4 separate regions of the Homo sapiens genome follow, and regions 2, 3 and 4 are each reported to be linked to region 1. Evidence: microRNA targets listed by miRTarBase, many of them from high-throughput screens and not tested one by one. Region 1 holds a microRNA gene; each other region holds the end of a gene's coding sequence.

Region 1 (3,246 bases):
TCAAGCACATAGAGTAATTTATTTTTATTCTCTGGCACTTGTCTCCCCTGAGTTTGACCCTTCCTGTTTCTCCTTAGGACTTGTGTATTTGACTAATAGCTTACCAGTTTTCAATTGGAAATAAGTGATTTTTTAAAATGTAGTTTTCAGGTCATCTCACATAAGTATGTTTTGTGTCTTAATTAGATTTTAAAAATAACTGATTAAAAAAAGTAACTGATTAAGGTCATGTCTTTAATTGCTTATCTATCCCCATTCAGTGTCTAATATGATGCTTATTGCAGTCATTAGTAAATAAACCATTAATGAGCTAATGCTGTCTGTAAACATTCATGTAATCTAGGTGTTTCTACTATGAGTCTTAAGAATTTCATTTTTAAGCATTTTTATATCTACACAAAACAAGATGCTCAATTACAAGTATATTTGGGGAACAGAGAAGGAAGTATTTTGAAGGCAGAAGAGTGAAACAGGTTATGTAATTGATAAGATGCCATAAAACTGATATCTTATAGTTCCAGAATATTAAAAGAATTATGACTGTGTAGCACAGTACAGTTAACAACAATCCTGAATTGATTTTACCTGAAAATACTATTTTGGTCATGTACTGTAACATTTGTACAGATACACTTAGCAATTTGACTAAGTGTACATGTATTAATGAATTCATTTTTAGTTTAAAAGCATGGTCACTGGAATCAGATTTTCTAGCTTTGAGTTGAGACTGTGTGATTTTTGGTATATTATCTAGCCCTGTATTTTAGTTTAAGTAATTTAAATGAAGTAAAAAAATAAAGCAAATAAAGATTTACAGGTGAAATAGATTCTAATAATACATTCTATCTCAGGAAGGTATTGTCAGGTTAATATTTCTAGTCTTTAAAACAGGACCTGGAAAATAGTAAGCATTGGATTAATATTGGCTATTGTTATAGACAACTAAATATTCTACAATATGACATTAATATAAATATAAAATAAAATGATTGGAATAATTTGATTTCAGGTTTAGAAATTATTTTAAAATATTCTTTCTTTTATTCAACAAATATTTGTTGAGCGCTTTCTTTTTTCGTTAGAGTTAGCAACATTAATATCACCTGTAATTTGTGTTATCTTTGATCTTTATAGTGCTCTAACATTTACAAAGGCCTTCCACATATTATCTTAGGTGGCTTTCCTGTCAAAACTATGAAGCAGCTAGGAAAAATGATATTGCTGGTTTATAGATGAAGCACCTTTCCATAGGAGTGCAAAGGTTTACCTCATTGCAAGAATGAAAGCCTAGGTCACTTCTCTTTTCACTGTACCATACCATCTCCTCTTATGTATCTTGGCCAGGCATGTTGGCTTATGCTTGTAATCCCAGAACTTTAGGAGGCTGAAGCAGGAGGATTGCTTGAGTCCAGGAGTTTGAGACCTTCCTGGGCAACATAGGGAGACGCTGTCTCTACAAAAAATTAAAAATTAGCCAGCTGTGGTAGTGCGCACCTGTTCCTAGCCACTTAGGAGGCTGAGGTGGGAGGATTGCTTAAGCCTGGGAGGTCAAGGTTGCAGCCTGGATGACAGAGCAAGACTGTCTCAAAAATAAAAAAGAAAAATAGAAAAAGAAAAGAAGAAGAAGAAAATCATCTTGCTTACATTCCTGTGGAACATATTGTTGCCTCTGCATGTTACAATGTGATCTTTTGGATGTAGGGCAAATCTGTGTTGACTTGGAGTCTTCTAAGGTTGGATCACAGTAATTCCATCCTTATTATTTTTTTAAATTTTTAGAAAGATTTTCTGAATATTAGCAAATTTTGTGTATTTTAAAATTGAAAGTATTTGATTTATTGAGAAAACATTTAAATTCTGATGTGTCTTTTTATTCTTTTGTGTCTGTCTTACCCAAATCCTGCTTTCTCTTTTTATTTTTTCCTGTTTGCGTATCTGATTTCCCAGCCTCCCACATTGTAGATTCCAAGACCAACCTGGTTATTTTTCTTTAAACACAAACAGAAATCTTAATAAAGGGTGGGGGGAACAAAACTGCCCATCAGACATGTAATGGGTTTCTCTAATATACCTGAATGAATTGATTACTCTAGCAGCTCACTCAGTGGAATAAAAAGTGAAAGGCACTCGTCATGTAGTTGTAAATTTATTCATTGCAAAGAGCCTCCATTAATTTTATGTAATTTGGTACTTCCCAGTAGTTGCTACTGGAGTGGTTTTGTGTAATGATGTCCTCTGGAGGAACTCTATTGCATATATAAATTTTAAAGGGCGAAAAGATCCTCAGAGAACTCACAATCTTAACTGTTGTTTTGTTCCTGTGTGTACTCTCACTTTTAGAAATGCGTTCATCTGCTGTATTTCTGAACCTAAGTATGTGCAGAACTATAGCAATAAAATTATGTACAAACCAGTTGATCTTGTGTTCCAGTAACTATCTACCTCACCTCCCCCCCGCTCCCCCCAAAAAAAAACCAAAAAAATTAAAAACTAGTCACTGTAGGCTCTTTTTATTTTAAACCCCCTTAATCAAATGATGCTAGATTATATTTGCTTAAGATCTGCCTGATGTCAGTGTACAGTAAAATGTGTTTTACTGTACCCTTGGTGCACTACATTTTAACTGTTGTTGTATCTAAAGAGTGAGATGCCTTTTCATGCCTATGGAATCCCTGATGTAATTGAGAACCTAAAGGAGTAATGACTTTGATGAGGCAGTTTTAGCCAGTGCTGAGCTCTCAACTTTTATTACTGAATATCAATTTTGTATACAAGGCCCATGGCAGTCTTAATATGCCTTCATATTTTATCTTGGGTGTGACTGGAGAACAGTTGGGAAAGCAGAGGTAAACCATTAAAATGATGACCATTTTTAGCATTTTTACTGTCTACTTGTGAGTTTGTATTTAGCTATTTTCATATTTACCATCTACTTGCTTTTGTGTGGGTGTGTGTGGATTCTTCTTGCTTCCAAATTGTGATAACTAAATTTCCTAATTGTCCTTAGGTCTTGTCCTATACTTAAGTGGAATTGTTTTCTTCTGGAATTCTCTTTCTTCTGTTGGTAGACAGAATTTCAAAATTCAGTTTCTTGTTTGTTGGCATGTTTGTTTGCTTTCAATTAGACAATTCGATTTTGAGATAACTTTACTGAGAAAGCAAAAGGGAGTAATCAACAGTGACATCAAACTGTTTTAGTGCTTTTGGAATAAGATTAAACCAAATGTTTAAATTTTGTTGAAAAGC
Region 2 (3,246 bases), not on the chromosome of region 1:
GCTTGGGTGAGAAATGGATTGTCATCTGTTGAGCCTGCTATCACTTTCTACAACTCAGGTTCTAAGTTCTTCAGTTAGTGTTAGGAATAGCCTGTGATGAAATAGTACTCACTAACTGAATTGTATTTGTAGGGAATGACCTTCTTGCTGTTTCTTTCTAGGATAAGAAATTGGATAAACAGTATGAATCTCTGTCTCTGTTTCACCCCAGTGTAAGTATACCATATGAAAGAAACATAATCTTCGCCTGGTCTGAGGCCCTGTTAGGCAAAGACCTTCACCTGACCCAGCAAGAGCTTTCACTGGCTGATGGAAGGTCATGTTGCAGCAGGAAGGGTCTAGGTTGGAATGTTTACCCTTCTGACAACAGTGATGGTGAACTTCGATTAGTTGCATGGATGGACATTTAAAGAGCTGTGCTGTCCCCTTCCCAAGCCATAAGGAGTGATTTAGCCATTCAACACTTAGTTAATATTTTGAGTTCAATTTCTCTCTTGGGATCTTACCTTGAGAGGTTTGAATCCTCTTTTGGGTCTTCAAATGGTAAGTAAGTTTTCAGGATGCTTGAAAGCTAGTAATTACTGTTTTTGCCATTAAAAGTAATGGCATTAATTACTTTTGCACCAACCTAGTATTTTTTAGTCACTTAGGTTGAGTGAGCCTCACCTAGCACTTTTTTCTTAGCATCACAGTGCCAACAGAATAAGAGGCTGTTTGATGGGTAAGGGTGGAGCTGTGAGGACCTCCGATTCATCTTTTATTCCTATCAATCAATTGAACCCATGTCTTTGCAGAACGTCGAAATGCTGAGCAGCATGGATTCTGCATCGGTTCGCATTATCAAACCCTTTCCTGCGCCCCAGACTCCAGGCCGCCTGCAGCCTGCCCCTGTGATCCCTTCGGCGCCAGCAGCTCCAAAACTGGACCACCAGAGAATGGACACCATCCAGGAAGACCCCAGCACAGACTCACATATGGACGAGGATGGGTTTGAGAAGGACCCCTTCCCAAATAGCAGCACAGCTGCCAAGTCATTTGAGGATCTCACGGACCATCCGGTCACCAGAAGTGAAAAGGCTGCCTCCTTTAAACTGCAGCGTCAGAATCGTGTTGACAGCAAAGAAACAGAGTGCTAATTTAGTTCTCAGCTCTTCTGACTTAAGTGTGCAAAATATTTTTATAGATTTGACCTACAAATCAATCACAGCTTGTATTTTGTGAAGACTGGGAAGTGACTTAGCAGATGCTGGTCATGTGTTTGAACTTCCTGCAGGTAAACAGTTCTTGTGTGGTTTGGCCCTTCTCCTTTTGAAAAGGTAAGGTGAAGGTGAATCTAGCTTATTTTGAGGCTTTCAGGTTTTAGTTTTTAAAATATCTTTTGACCTGTGGTGCAAAAGCAGAAAATACAGCTGGATTGGGTTATGAATATTTACGTTTTTGTAAATTAATCTTTTATATTGATAACAGCACTGACTAGGGAAATGATCAGTTTTTTTTTATACACTGTAATGAACCGCTGAATATGAGGCATTTGGCATTTATTTGTGATGACAACTGGAATAGTTTTTTTTTTTTTTTTTTTTTTTTGCCTTCAACTAAAAACAAAGGAGATAAATCTAGTATACATTGTCTCTAAATTGTGGGTCTATTTCTAGTTATTACCCAGAGTTTTTATGTAGCAGGGAAAATATATATCTAAATTTAGAAATCATTTGGGTTAATATGGCTCTTCATAATTCTAAGACTAATGCTCTCTAGAAACCTAACCACCTACCTTACAGTGAGGGCTATACATGGTAGCCAGTTGAATTTATGGAATCTACCAACTGTTTAGGGCCCTGATTTGCTGGGCAGTTTTTCTGTATTTTATAAGTATCTTCATGTATCCCTGTTACTGATAGGGATACATGCTCTTAGAAAATTCACTATTGGCTGGGAGTGGTGGCTCATGCCTGTAATCCCAGCACTTGGAGAGGCTGAGGTTGCGCCACTACACTCCAGCCTGGGTGACAGAGTGAGACTCTGCCTCAAAAAAAAAAAAAAAAAAAAAAAATTCACTATCTACAAACCTAGAATATTTAAAATACAAAGATTGCCTGTTTTCAAACACTATTGAATAAGAGGGTGAGATATTTCTTAACAACAACAACAACAAAAAAAACAGGTTGTTTTGAATGTGATGAGCCAGCCAGGAGATAGAATACTACCTGCCCTTAGGGTTGGGGGCTGTCCCCACAAGACTTGATACTTCAGAAACCCTTTTTATTGACCCACAAGCAGATATTTGAATTACTTCTTACTTTATTGCTCCAGGATTCTGGATGGGCTGCATTTACTGTGTGAAGGATAAAAATCATTAGCCTGGATTCTGATTTCTATAAATTGCCATTAAAAGCTTTTTTTCCCCTAAGAACTGAAATGTGCTCACCAGCCAAAACATTTTAACTTGTAAATTTTGAGGGCAGTTAACCAAACCTGTGACTAATCATATCTCCTCCTACCCCCCATTTCCAAGGACATTTGTTACTCAGATACTTGTTATACTAATACTTGAACTTGTACCTTATGGTATTTGCTATCTTTTAACTAGTCATGATATTCTTATACTTTAGTTACACTTTTGGAATTTGATACAAGGTTGAGTGGGGTGTGTGGGTGTATGTATGAGTGAAACAGTTCTCAAAAGAATGTAAGAAAAACCATTTTTATAAAATTGTGACTTTTTAAAAACATAGTCTTTGTCATTTATAGAATTAACAAGCTGCTCAGGGTATATTTTATAGCTGTAGCACTGATATCTGCATTAATAAATACTGTCGAAACACAATGGACCTAAGTATAAAACTTCCCTGAAAAATCATCTAATACTTTTATTATTAATATCAGTGGCAAAGGTTTAAGCCTGAGGAAAAAAGCGTACCTCTACGTATTGACAACTTTGAGTTCTGTAGATAACAAGCAGATTTGGGTCTCCTGTGATTGGCTAATGGTCTCCATCTCCCAGCAGACTTAATTCAGGTTTTGCTTCTGCTACATCCCGCCAGTAAGGAAGCAGCAAAGGTAGAGAAGAGACCTTTTTCTCTATCAAAGGCCAGAGATGCGAGAACAAAAATTCATTCCCCTTTGGAGACAAATGTAGTCCATCTGATAAATAAGATGAGAAGTCCTAGAAGGGAGAGAAATCGGTTAAAGGTGGGTAACTGGCCACGTGTGGTAGCTCACCCCTGTCATTCCAACACTTTGGGG
Region 3 (3,000 bases), not on the chromosome of region 1:
TACATATTTACTTAATCTATACAGAATCAAGTAGATAAAATCAGATTCACATTAGTGAAAAATCTCTACAAAATGTCTTTGAAAAGCAAAACGAGACTGCCTCTTAACAATTCGTATCCTCATGAAAGACGTGGGCTGTAAAAATAAAGCAGTGTGTTTAGCACAAACTAGAAGATATCTGCATCATTTTTTTCACAGTTATTTCCATCTACAGTCTGAAAGAGGTAGATTTTTCTGCAACACCTGAGAATTGAATTGTGATAACCAGGTGTAATAAAGGCAGTTGCATACATAACTGAAAAATACTGGTCTCAAGACCAAGAAATGTACTCCTAACAAGTCTGAGGATGAAATGGTCCATATTACCCAAGACCCAAGTTTTCTCTACACCTTGGAGTCCACCGCCAATATAAATAATACACATCACGATTCCATGATGGTGCAACAATTGCAATTTAAGTGAATTCAACATTTAAACCTTTTCTGGGCCAGCCTAGTAGCATTACAGTGTTCTAGAATATGGTAGATACGGGGTGCGCTACAAAGCCACAACACTGGGCTGGTGAGGTGATCACTGTAGGAAGATGTCCTTCTCAGGGGGTCCCATTTGTTTTTATTCACAGGGTAATGGGAGGAAGGGTTCTGAAAGGACAACAAATGCATCCCAGACAGAATCCATATCCTTTCAACACTATAATAGCATCTAGCTAAAAATACAAAGTAAGCCAAAAGCAGCAGGCCAAGTACTGTTAATCACATTGCTTTAAAGCCCTTGGAAGTATGCAACAGGCCCAAGATTTACAATCTTCCACACAGGACAAGCACCACAAAGAAACGTGGTGGGCTACACAAATGGCTTAATAAAATGTTAAGAGCTGTACATCCAGCAGAGTTCTTGTGAAATAATGTGATCATTAGTACTAATTTTAAGGTGGATTATATTTCTGATCTATACCTGCATTCCCCCCCACCACCAGGGAAATGAGTCTAGTATTTTAGTAGCAGAACAGGGTGTACTCCTAAGAGGCTGTTGGAGGGTGGTGTTTTTTGCTTCTGACTCATTTTGATGGTAATTAGATAATCTACTTTGTGGATTTATTTTCCTCCACTGTGGCCCCTTGAATTAACATGACTGATAGTGGAGGCTTAGATACAACCCTCCTCCACTCCAGGCGGTTTCCTATCTATCTATCTGTTGGACAATTTTCAATTCTTTCAACCCAGTTTCGACCATGAATGTGACAGGACTTTACAAATAACACTTGTAACAAAGAGAAAACCCTTTTAACTGGACAAAACAGAGTTTATTCAGTCCAGTAAGCAATTTAACAAGTGTCAGTCTGATAGTTTTGCTCAGTGGAATGTGCTAACATCAGTTCTAGTAGAACCTTTTATTTCATAAAGCATTTCAATGCAAATTATACCAGGGACAAAGTCAAAACTTCCATCAGTGCAGCCTGATTAATCATCTGCATAACTGCGCCACATTCAACATTGAAACAAAGAACTAATTCAAAAGTTATGTGCTTAATTTCAAATTTTCCCCCAGTCCAAGTGTAGAGACCTTGATAATACTGTGGCTTTTCTTTTTTCTTCTTAAAAAAGAGATGGTAACTAAGAAGGGGGTGAGAAAACAGACTGAACACGTAAGTAACAGATCATGACTAACACTCTGCCAAGTCTTCCCAAAGTAAAAATGTTGGTGCCAGTGTTTGTTTTGGAAATGAAAATCAATTTCGGTTGGTACTGATCCATAATGAAAATTCCCTTTTGAAAAACCTGGAGTACTTTGCTGGTGGAATTTTTGTAGTAACTTTCAAGTAGCCAGAAGGTATTGGAGAAACTTCTGCCTAGTGAAAGTGACACGTGAATTGACCGTCCTTGTCTTTGACAAGGGACTTCATTGAACGGCAAACATGAACACCAGTTTTCAAAGAATAAGTGGCCTTCTATGGGAAGTGGAGAATATGTACTGAAATCCCAAATCAGAATCAAACACAAACCGCCATCCTCTACGGGAGCCCCTCATGGTCCAAATCCCACACCTGAAACCAAAGCAGGATGACTGTTCAGTCACGTAAACACTAAGCTTATTTGTCTAGTGATTTGCCTCTATGTACTATTTTGTCCACAAGTGACATCTTTATATACATATTCTGCCGAAACTTAGGATTCTAGGCATGTGGCCATCTCAATTTGTCCCGAGATATAAATGTTTTCAAAAAGCTAATTTCAATCAAATATGCTTCTGACCCAACACTAGGAGTTTTATTTTTACTTGGCATTTAAATGGGTTATTAGACAAAACTAATCGCCTTGGTATTTTGTTTTTCTGAATAATATTATGGGGGGGGGGGCTAAGACGTTTAAATTAATATTGTTTTCACATCAAGGAACCATCGTCAGAACAAAGTTCCCTTGTAATGGTCGGCCCTGTCAGTGAAATTTTCATTAGGATGATAATGTGCAAGGAGCAGGGAGAGAAAGGACAAGGCAATGAACACATGCATTCCAGTGGAGGGAGAACGAGGCTGATGTGCAACACAGCTGAGGAAAATTTATAGATTAAACTATTCAAAACTGCTAAGCAGCCTCCTGTACCACATAAGTCCAGTAGTTCTAAGAAAATACAGATATGGTAGAAAAAGTAAGAAAATTTTCACCACAAAACCAATAGTTAACTACTAACAGAGAAAGTTATACACAAAATATATCTCTCAATACAGTGATCACACCTCATCTTAGTCAACCGACTCGATGGCCGGAGCAGAGCCTGTGGACGGGGGCTTTTGCACAGCGCTTCTCTGACTCTTGGGCTCAGCCTCCAGGTGCGCTCCCAGGGCTCTTTTCGAGGAAGTGTTCAGCTCCTTGTGAGAATCCAGGGCAGTACAGGGCTGCATCACAGGTGTTGCTAAATCCCTGTTCGCCGCTTTGATGGCCGCTTTGATGGATACCTGCTCTTTCAGGACTTCCACCTTCTCATTGAGCTCATTCCTTTCT
Region 4 (3,246 bases), not on the chromosome of region 1:
CTTTGAGGACTAGTTGGGCTTCGTATTTTGCTTTTGTTTGTCCATAGAGAGTCCGAGGAAGTGCAGGAGTTCAGAGGACAGTTGAATTTGAATTCCTCTCCCTACAGAAATGGAATGTGACTAGAGAGTGAGAAGAGAAAGTGATATGTTCTCCTTACCCCTCCTTTCCACAAACTATGTAACTTCTAGTCTGGTTCTAGTCTCGGCCTGTGCTTTGAGATCATCTGTGATATAGGGAAGGGTGGCAGGTAGGTAGAGTGCATATGTCAAAGAACAGCTCATACCAGAGGGCAGCTCAAACTTGTTTAGGAACTTCTGAGAGGTGACCACTTAATTCAACAGCTAATGAAGATATCTGCCTTTGGAAAAGCATATTTAGAAATGTTGAAGTAGTAGGTATGTTTGGAAAGAAAAAAAAATGTTTAAAACTAAAGACTTTCTGTCTTCCCCTATGTAACCTTGCCCATGATGTCTCTCGTCATGATTGTTAAAAGAGGAGCCATTGAAATAGATGTGATATTCATTTGTCTGATTTATTCAAATATATTTTATATTCGTATAGTAGAATGGTCTATTTTTAATACCTGTTATGATTTTGTTTTTTAGGAAATATACGAAGAGTCATCAACTTGGAAAGGAAACAAAGAGTGCTTTTGGGCATCCAACAGTTAATCACTTATGTTTTTAGAGCATGCAATCTTAACTTTGTTAAACTATTATTATTGATCACATTTTGATTTTTTTCTCTCCACATCAGGATAGTTTACTGAAGCACAATCTCTTATACTAGTGGGACAAAAGGGAGAAAAAGGAAGCAAGATAAATGGGTATGTAGGATGAAGGGTTATTTAAAATGGAACTAAAGATAGAAGGAGGACTGTAGGAAGAAATGGAATAATTTAAATGTGAGGAAAGATATCTGTGGTAGACATGTCCTTCCATGACTAATTTCTAATTGTAACTCAACACACATTGAGGTATGGGCCCTCCTCAGTGACTTTAACTAGCTCAGAAACGTACTCCCCCACCAACCCCACCTCACCGCCCCCCATCCCGGTTCTGGGAGAGCATTGTTATTAAGGATGCATGACAGGAATGTTGGCAGAACTGGAAAGTATTAAAAAAGCATTATCAGACAGTCTTGATATTATACATTTTCAGAAATATATTAAAAATAATAAACTAAAACCCATGATTTCAAAAGTTTAAAAAGAGTATTTTCTTTTTTTTTAAATTGCCTAAAATAGTTCTCATTATGGAGATTTCTGGGATTTCAGAATCTATAATCTTACCAGAAAACTTTTTGTTGTTTTTTATTAGTTGTTAATTTTGTATCAATATACAAATCAGCACAAAATTGTCATAAAGCTAACTAGCAACAAGGTGGTTTGTGTTGAAATGTTTAGGTAAACAATGCCCCAATTTTTAACTGGTTAAGCTTTATAGTATTTTGATAGACTTGTACATATAAGTCCCATATAGTTCTTAAATTTTTTTTTCCAGCTTTATTTAGGTATACTTGACAAAAATTGTATGTATTTAAAGTATACAATGTGATTTTTGATACACATATACATTGTGAGGTGATTACCATAATCCAACTAATTAACATATTCCTCAGCTCACATAGTCCCCTCTTCTGTGTGGTGAGAATATTTAAGGTCTACTCTCAGCAAATTTCAGGTAAACACATAGCTCATAAAATAATAAAATACAGGCAAAATTTGGGCAGTCGGCATCATCACAAAATTTGCATTATGCATATTAAGAACAAAAGCTATACTTTCAGACACTTAGATTGAAGGATTTTTTTCTTATGTCTGGGACAAATAAGAAACGTAGTAATCCTATTTGTTATATGTAGTGAAAACATCTTTTACCTAAGGAACCCATTTATTCAACAAATATTTATTGAATGCCTGTTTTGTGCCAGGCACCCACCCAGTGATCTTTTTCTGCCAACCTAAAATACCTTGAGGAACACTCTGCATCTTATCTGTGGCTGGGACCCATAGGACAGCCACACTGACTTTAGGAATCACCTGGTTACATCAGTTGATGCTTGTTCATTAGTCCGTCTGGAGAGATTGGGCCAGAAGGATACTGGAAGGGCAGACAAACCCTCCGCCTACTTCCTCTGCCGGGTTCGGGTTGCCTGTTTGGTCTCAGCCTTACCTTCACAGTTCAGTGTCACTCTGGCTTGCCATCGAGCTTCCGCCTGTCCCCATTGGAGAGAAGGGGTGGGTGTTGGCTGTTGCATTATATCTAAAAGCACATTATCATGGGGTTACTGGGTCACTGGACATTTCTAGGATTTTGGACATAGGTTGTTAAATGGATGTTATGTCATATGCAATGTTGATAGGTATATGTGGATTTCAAGACTTTCCTACTTAGATATTTCTTTAGAAGTTCCTTATTGAGGGTAATGATGTTTTTAAAGAACATAGAACATTCTTTATGTTTTAAAAGAATCATGCCTTCATTAAGTAGGCTTTATTCTAAGTTTGGAACTGAGACTGTTATGCTTTTAAAGTCTCCAACAGAGAGGTTAAGGAGTTAACCTGGGGCATGCCAGAACTGGGATGGAATGGCCTTGAAAGATTTTAGTGCATTGCACTTGACTTAGATAGGATCTTTACTGACCCTTGCTTACTTAGGAGTGGCAGAGTTAATTGGTGGTTCAGATATTAAGGGGCTACTGTCACTCTGATATGTAGCTTTTCTATCATCTCTGTAACTTAGCTTCAAGTAACTAGAAGAGTAATCTAAAAAAAATAATTAGCCTTTAATCAGATTGCCTGCAGTGTTTCTTGGTCACTTTAAAGCCGTGACTTTGCATGATTGCTAGGTAAGTTCACTTAAGAAATAGGAAATTCAAATTATTTATGTTTCAAGTATTTTTGAACAGGTGGTAAAATGAAATTGATTTTTATCATCTTTGAATGAAAGTAACAGCAGATATTCAATGAGTGACTTATTTTGTGGACATTTTTGTCCTTTGGATATGATGTATAGAGTCACAATATATTTTCAGCCTTTTTTGAGAAATAAGTGATTTAGACATCTTACACAGTTACTGAGCACCTGGTACAGTGAAGATCTCTCAAGAATGATTTGTGTGATGTAGTTCGGTGGATCATCCAGCAGAGGGCAGTAGAGCCAGAGCCATAGTAAAAGTTATAGTAAAGTTGCTCTTAGCAACTTGAGTCTTACTTAGATTTAATTTTGCATAGAACCAAAAGT

The links. Region 1 holds the annotated microRNA hsa-miR-8066 (CAAUGUGAUCUUUUGGAUGUA, at 1,680-1,700, shown strand). A microRNA usually pairs through its seed, bases 2 to 8, with sites in the 3' UTR of a target mRNA and lowers its output. Matches are read on the target gene's strand: a 7mer-m8 pairs with bases 2 to 8, a 7mer-A1 pairs with bases 2 to 7 and ends in A, and an 8mer does both.
Region 2: the mRNA of IAH1 is a reported target of hsa-miR-8066. Seed matches in the 3' UTR shown: 7mer-m8 at 2,174-2,180.
Region 3: the mRNA of TXLNG is a reported target of hsa-miR-8066. Seed matches in the 3' UTR shown: 7mer-A1 at 2,461-2,467, 7mer-m8 at 1,236-1,242 and 8mer at 904-911.
Region 4: miRTarBase lists MOCS2 as a target of hsa-miR-8066. Seed matches in the 3' UTR shown: 7mer-m8 at 727-733 and 7mer-A1 at 2,273-2,279.

The regions. Positions count from the first base shown.
Region 1 is chr4:101,239,259-101,242,504 of GRCh38, reverse strand. It overlaps MIR8066 (microRNA 8066), which reads left to right and starts at 1,633; the gene lies at 1,633-1,710. All of the region lies in intron 1 of PPP3CA (protein phosphatase 3 catalytic subunit alpha), which reads left to right.
Region 2 is chr2:9,488,067-9,491,312 of GRCh38, reverse strand. IAH1 (isoamyl acetate hydrolyzing esterase 1 (putative)) reads right to left here. Exons shown (of 6, transcript NM_001039613.3): 6 at 1,571-3,166. The coding sequence ends at 2,984. ADAM17 (ADAM metallopeptidase domain 17) reads left to right here. Exons shown (of 19, transcript NM_003183.6): 18 at 162-212; 19 at 795-2,827. The coding sequence ends at 1,136. Among named protein-coding and RNA genes, the nearest start is that of IAH1, 15 kb to the right of the region's middle.
Region 3 is chrX:16,841,508-16,844,507 of GRCh38, reverse strand. TXLNG (taxilin gamma) reads right to left here. Exons shown (of 10, transcript NM_018360.3): 10 at 1-3,000. The coding sequence ends at 2,742. It overlaps RBBP7 (RB binding protein 7, chromatin remodeling factor), which reads left to right. Exons shown (of 12, transcript NM_002893.4): 12 at 1-167. Among named protein-coding and RNA genes, the nearest start is that of RBBP7, 27 kb to the left of the region's middle.
Region 4 is chr5:53,096,028-53,099,273 of GRCh38, reverse strand. It overlaps MOCS2 (molybdenum cofactor synthesis 2), which reads left to right. Exons shown (of 7, transcript NM_004531.5): 7 at 607-3,246. The coding sequence ends at 672. Among named protein-coding and RNA genes, the nearest start is that of MOCS2, 12 kb to the left of the region's middle.